Regions from separate parts of the Homo sapiens genome. Here region 2 is linked to region 1. A link means that fine-mapping ties the variant in region 1 to the expression of a gene that starts in the linked region. Tissue or cell type: monocytes. Region 1 holds a variant in brackets; the other region holds the start of a gene. All regions are shown on one strand. Distances are from middle to middle.

Region 1 (2,684 bases):
TGACCCACCGTGAGGTTGCAACTGAGGTCCCTACGAGGACCCCTGGAGCTGACGATCCCCTAGGGTTTCCTAGTTGAGAAGGAGCCGTGCCTCTGCAGCCACACATGGGTCAGGCACTGGCCACAGGCTGTCCCTGGCATGGGGTATAACCCAGTGAGGTAACAGCAGTCCCAGCAGCTTGGCCCTGAAGAGGGGCTCTGGAGCACAGAGTAGTCCCCACAACCCACCCCAAAGCTCAGGCTCACACCAGTGTTTCAGTCAGACGCTGGATGTCCCCACAGGACAGGATCTTTGTCCCCAGCATCTAGCACAGGGCCTGGAGGGGCAGCACAAGCCTCAGCCTGCAAATGGAGGAAGAAGAGGAAGTGTGAAGTGGTGCCCTGTGCCGCATTGTGTGGGCCAGCTGCTCAGCCTCCCCCAGAGGTTCAGAGAGGGCTGGCCACCTGCCTAAGGTCACACAGCTGCTAAGGGCAGAGCCAGGATTGGAACCCAGGACTGGCTGAGTCCAGAGCTTATGGTCTCTCAGCCACATCAGACTGTGAGCTTATTAGAAAGCAAGGGCCGGGGGAAAGGAAAAGAGCTGCTCTTCCCAGTTCCCGGAGCAGGGCACTGGAGCGGGGCCCACCAACTCTGGCCACCTCTGGCCAACCTGCCAGGACCCATGCCCAGGGGAGGGAGCAGCATCTTGCGGGCGGGCAGCCTTTCTTGGGTAATGAGGCCCAGCCGGCAGTTTGCAGGCCTTACCATGTGAATAATTCATTTGCAACCAAGTCTGGGAATTAGAAACCGTTACTGGATGATTTATTTAACAGGGGCTGCTGCTGGGGAGAGGGGAGGAGGATTTTGAACTATAAAAGGGAAGTACATACCTTGTAGATAGATTCAGAGAGTCCCACAGACCTGGGTTTCAGTCCAGGTCTGCCTTCTACCAGCTGTGTGACCTTGAATAAGTGACTGGACCTCTCTGTGCCTCAGTTTTCTTTGTTGCAAAAAGGGGATAATAATAGAGTTGTTAAAAGGATTGAATGAGTTAGAATTTGGAGAGCACTTAGAATCATGCCTGGTTCATAGTAAGTGCTCAGTGTTTGTTGTATGAATACATGACAGCCTATATAGAATAGGAGCTTAATTGAGCATGTACTTTGTGAC[A/G]GGCCCAGTTCTTTTTTTTTTTTTTTTTTGAGACGGAGTCTCGCTCTGACGCCAAGGCTGGAGTGCGGTGGTGTAATCTCGGCTCACTGCAAACTCTGCCTCCAGGGTTCACGCTGTTGCCTCAGCCTTCCGAGTAGCTGGGACTACAGGCACCCGCCACCACGCCTGGCTAATTTTTTGTATTTTTAGTAGAGACCGTGTTAGCCAGGATGATCTCGATCTCCTGACCTCGTGATCCACCCGCCTCGGGCTCCCAAAGTGCTGGGATTACAGGCGTGAGCCATGGCGCCTGGCCGGCAGGCCCTGTTCTAAGAGCTTAACATGCGTTATCTCATAGCACTCATGTAAATTGGATATTATTATTATTGCATCTATATTAGAGATGAGAAAATAGAAGCTCAAGCTGGAGCTCAGACAGCTAGTCCTGGCAAAGCAGGGATCTGAACCCAGCCAAGACTCCCTGACTGCAGGGCCCATGCAGTTAACCACATTCCCATATCACAGATCTGATGCACAGCCTAGCACAGACCTGGCTCTTATTTTAAGAAAAATGTCCCTGTCCCCGCTAAGCATTGCCACTTTCATCATGACATTTGATTCTATTAACAAACCCGACAGGTGGTCAGGGAGCATGTGGTCTCTCTCAGCTGAGGAAGCTGAGGCTCAGAGAAGGACGTGAATCGTTCAATGTCCCACAGCCCCAGATGAAAGCCAGGCCTCCCTGAGGCCTCCTAGCAATGATCACAATGTGTCTTATAACAGCTCAACCCCAGGCATGTCTGCTTACGCCAAGACTGCACTCCTGGAAGGCAGAGGCTGTGTCTTGGTTTTGCCGGATTCACTAAAGGTCCTTATTGAATAGCAGAGGAAGGAAGGAAGAGAGGGAGAGAGGCAGGAAGGGAAGGAGGGAGCAAGGGAGGGAGGTAAGCAGGCTGATATAGTAGGTAAACTGTCTCTTGTCATCTTTATGCTGCTCCTGCCATAGCTCCCCACACACCCCCCCACCCAGTAAAACATACACTGGAACACATGCTCACACGCTCCTGTCCAGGGTGAGGTCAGTGTGGCCCCTGAGCCAGGCTGCCTGGCACGTGGCTGTGAAATCGACCCAGGCACTTCTGAGGGGCCAGGTGTCCTTGGCCTCCCACAGGAGGTGGCACTTTGCCAGACCCTTGCAGAGGGTGGCGGGGTCTCCAGGCCTGTCCCTGGATGTGAGCACAGGGACACGGCAGCTCTGCCCTGTCCACCGGCTGCTGGCGGGCCTCCCGGGCTGTGCAGTGCGCTGGGTACACAGGTGTTTGGGCTTTTATGATTGCATAGGGGTCTGTGTGTCTGTGGATGTGGGACTGGTGTGTTTGTAGATGTGTACTGAGGATATTTTTGAATCTTGTAGGTGTGTTGTGTATCTCTGCACATATTTGCATTTGTGTGGGGGGTGTGTTCTGTGAGGGTTCTGTATCTGGGTATTTCGATTTCGAGTGTTGGGATAGGTGTGTGCGTGTGTGTGTGTGTGGATGTGAATATGTTTGTGTGTA
Region 2 (2,684 bases), 230 kb before region 1:
CCTTGGAGCTCTGGCCACCCAAAGGCTGACAGGATCCGTGTCCACAGCTGCCACCTGAGCCACAGTCCCCAGCAGAGCTGTAGGAAACAGGTGCAGAAACCCATGCTGGCCTTCAGCTCTCCCCGTCCATTTCAAAGCAAAAGTGGCAGCACTGGGACAGACACAAAACTGACACCCAAAACCAATCCTCCGGTCACCTCACAAGTTCATGGTCCTTTCCGTCCTTCAAGAACTTGGGAAAGAATGTCCACGTCTTCCCATGGGCTACAGACTGTGTTCCACAGATGCTGAATCCAACAAGCTCCAACCCTTGCTTAGGTTAAAAATGAACACAAATGGATTAACTTTTTGCCAAGCAAAAGGCCTCAGCATGAACAACCACCCGGTACCTGTGACTCCTGGCTGGAGAGCCCAGCCCGGCGGAAACTCAGAAAGGGTGAAGATGCTGATAGGTCACAAGCCCCTCCCCACTGCCAATGGAGATGCCAGAGTGCTCCAGCACAATGGAGTGTGGCCCACCAAAGCCCCATTTCCTAGCCCGGTGGAGATGGCCCTCGCTCCATTCTACCTCCTCTGTACCCTGTCAGTATCTTCCTCCATTCCCCTGCCTTCCCCCGTCCTGGTCAGAAACACCATTGTTCCCTCTATTGCCCACTGAGCAGTGGTCCAGGAGAAGTACTCCAGCAGGTCCCCCGCCCCCGGATGGGTGCTATTGTTCCTTGGCCCAGGGTTGGGGGCCATCATCTTCCCGTCCCTACCCAATCCGGCAGAGGAGCCTGGCCTGTGAGGAGATGCCATTCCTGCCTCTCCATCCCTCTGCTGCTGCGCTCCATCAGCCTCCCTCACGCCTCGCCTGGCCAATGGCAACAGCCTCTTGCTCATCAGCCTTGCCTCCTGACTCTGGTCCTTGGCTATCCAACTGTCCCAATCGACCCTCTGGAACTCACTATTGTGGACAATGGTCATCATTGAAGGACACACCACCCAGGGCCTTTTAAGAAGTGACTGCAGACTGTGTGTCCCACCTGCCACTTGACTCTGCTCATCCTCTCGGGTCCCACAGCAAGGCCCTTCACACTCCCCAAGTGGGCACACTCTCTCTGTGCATGCATGCCAGGCCCGCCTCTGACTCCCCTCCTGGGGATCCCGTCTGGCTCAGTGGGAAGCCTATCGCTCTTGGTAAATTACTCAGTAAGCACTTCTCTCCTGAGGCCTGGCTCCTCTCCTGCCCTCGGCGGGAGACCTGGGAACGGGCCTGCCAGCGCCCAGCCCAGGGCTGGCAAGGAGGATCCCTAGCAGGGAGGGGGAGACCCACTGAAGCCTTTCTCCCTGCACAGAGGAGGACTCTCATTCTGTTCAAATCCTCTGCACCTCTTTCTTCCCCTCCCTGTACTCTCCATCTGGGTCAATGATTTCACCTTCTACTCAGTTGTCTAAGCTGCAGATTCTGACATTTTCTCCAACTGCTCCTTCTCCCCCATCACAGAGCCTGGTAAGAAGCAGTAGGTGACAGTGAATGGTTTTTCTCAATAAATCTACGTGCCCAAGAAGGGAGACATGGTCTTGGCAGCATCACCAGTCAACATCAGAGTTCGTCCAAACTGACATTCCACAGCATTTCCTCTTTGCCGTCCACACAACCGGCTTCTTGCTTGAACATGCTGGTTACAGGGAGCTCATGTCGCACCTCAGCTGCTCTCTCAAGGCTGCGTCTGTCATCGCGGGAGGTGTATTTTAGCTCAAATTGCCCCACTGGCTTCCCATAATTGTCTTTCACCCTTTGGAACCACATACAACAAATAAATATAATCCCTTAAAAATACCTGGCAGGAGTGCCCACGTTCTCTCCAGGTCTCCTCTTCACCAGCCTTAACCTTCTGGTCCTTCCATCTCATTTCAAGGTGCTTTCAGCTTTCCTGAGTTCCCCAGGTGCCAATTTCCATAGGTTTTTTACCTCCCAGATGATGGCTACCATATTCCTTTAACGTAGCCTCTGCAGGAATGAGGGATTTTTAGAAAGCTGAGACTTCCGAGAAGTCTCATGATGGAAGAATCCAAGGGGATCCCAACACCAGATTGCTCTGGAAAATGTGTTACTGTGACGGTGATCCCATGGGTTAGAGCACATGTTTGAAGGCCGAGCCAGGAACGGAGGATGTGGCCAAAAACCAAAGTGTGGATGAGGCGGAACATAAAACACATACTTCCAACAGCACATCCCCTGTCCTCCTTCCCACCCCTGAGGAGCTCTCCAAGTAGCAATTACTGAATTTGCACTTTATTATAGGGTTCAGTTACAGTATAAAATGATGGTCTGTAGAAATTAACCCCAACTGTGTAGCTGGCAAAAAAGAAAACAAAACAAAAAAACAGGCTGCCTGGCCCAGGGCTGACCAGTTGGTCACCTTGCCCAGTAGCACACTAACAAAGGAACAGAAAAAGAACGAGCCCAGAAAGTCTGGATTTTAGGAGGCTAAGGAAGGATCAGGGAGATGTGGGTTGGTTTTTGCTTGGTTTCAAGGCGCACAGGGGATAGCCCAGAAGCCTACAGGAAAGGTGAGCCGAACACATCACAGAGAGAGAAGCCACTGCTGCCAAGTGGGCTTGGAAGACAGAACGGACATTGGTGCCTACTAGCGACGCAAACCACCTGCACACAGCATAGCCTCAGACGGGGTGAGCGC

Direction of the effects. Positions count from the first base shown, and alleles are read on the strand shown. Sizes are in standard deviations (SD) of each study's normalised expression.
With allele G in place of A in region 1, the expression in monocytes of the gene that starts at base 1,372 in region 2 is higher (large effect, 1.1 SD a copy in Quach 2016).

Evidence for each region. PIP is the estimated chance that this variant, and not a neighbour inherited with it, causes the effect. A credible set is the group of variants that fine-mapping cannot tell apart.
Region 2: MIR600HG starts here. The variant in region 1 is the best candidate, but not a certain one, in a credible set for the expression of MIR600HG in monocytes (Quach 2016, PIP 0.67).

The regions. Positions count from the first base shown.
Region 1 is chr9:123,343,937-123,346,620 of GRCh38, forward strand. No RefSeq gene overlaps it. Among named protein-coding and RNA genes, the nearest start is that of CRB2, 11 kb to the right of the region's middle. The variant A/G (reference allele first, on the strand shown) is at 1,150.
Region 2 is chr9:123,114,106-123,116,789 of GRCh38, forward strand. MIR600HG (MIR600 host gene) reads right to left here and starts at 1,372. Exons shown (of 1, transcript NR_026677.1): 1 at 1-1,372. It also overlaps a transcript of STRBP not described here.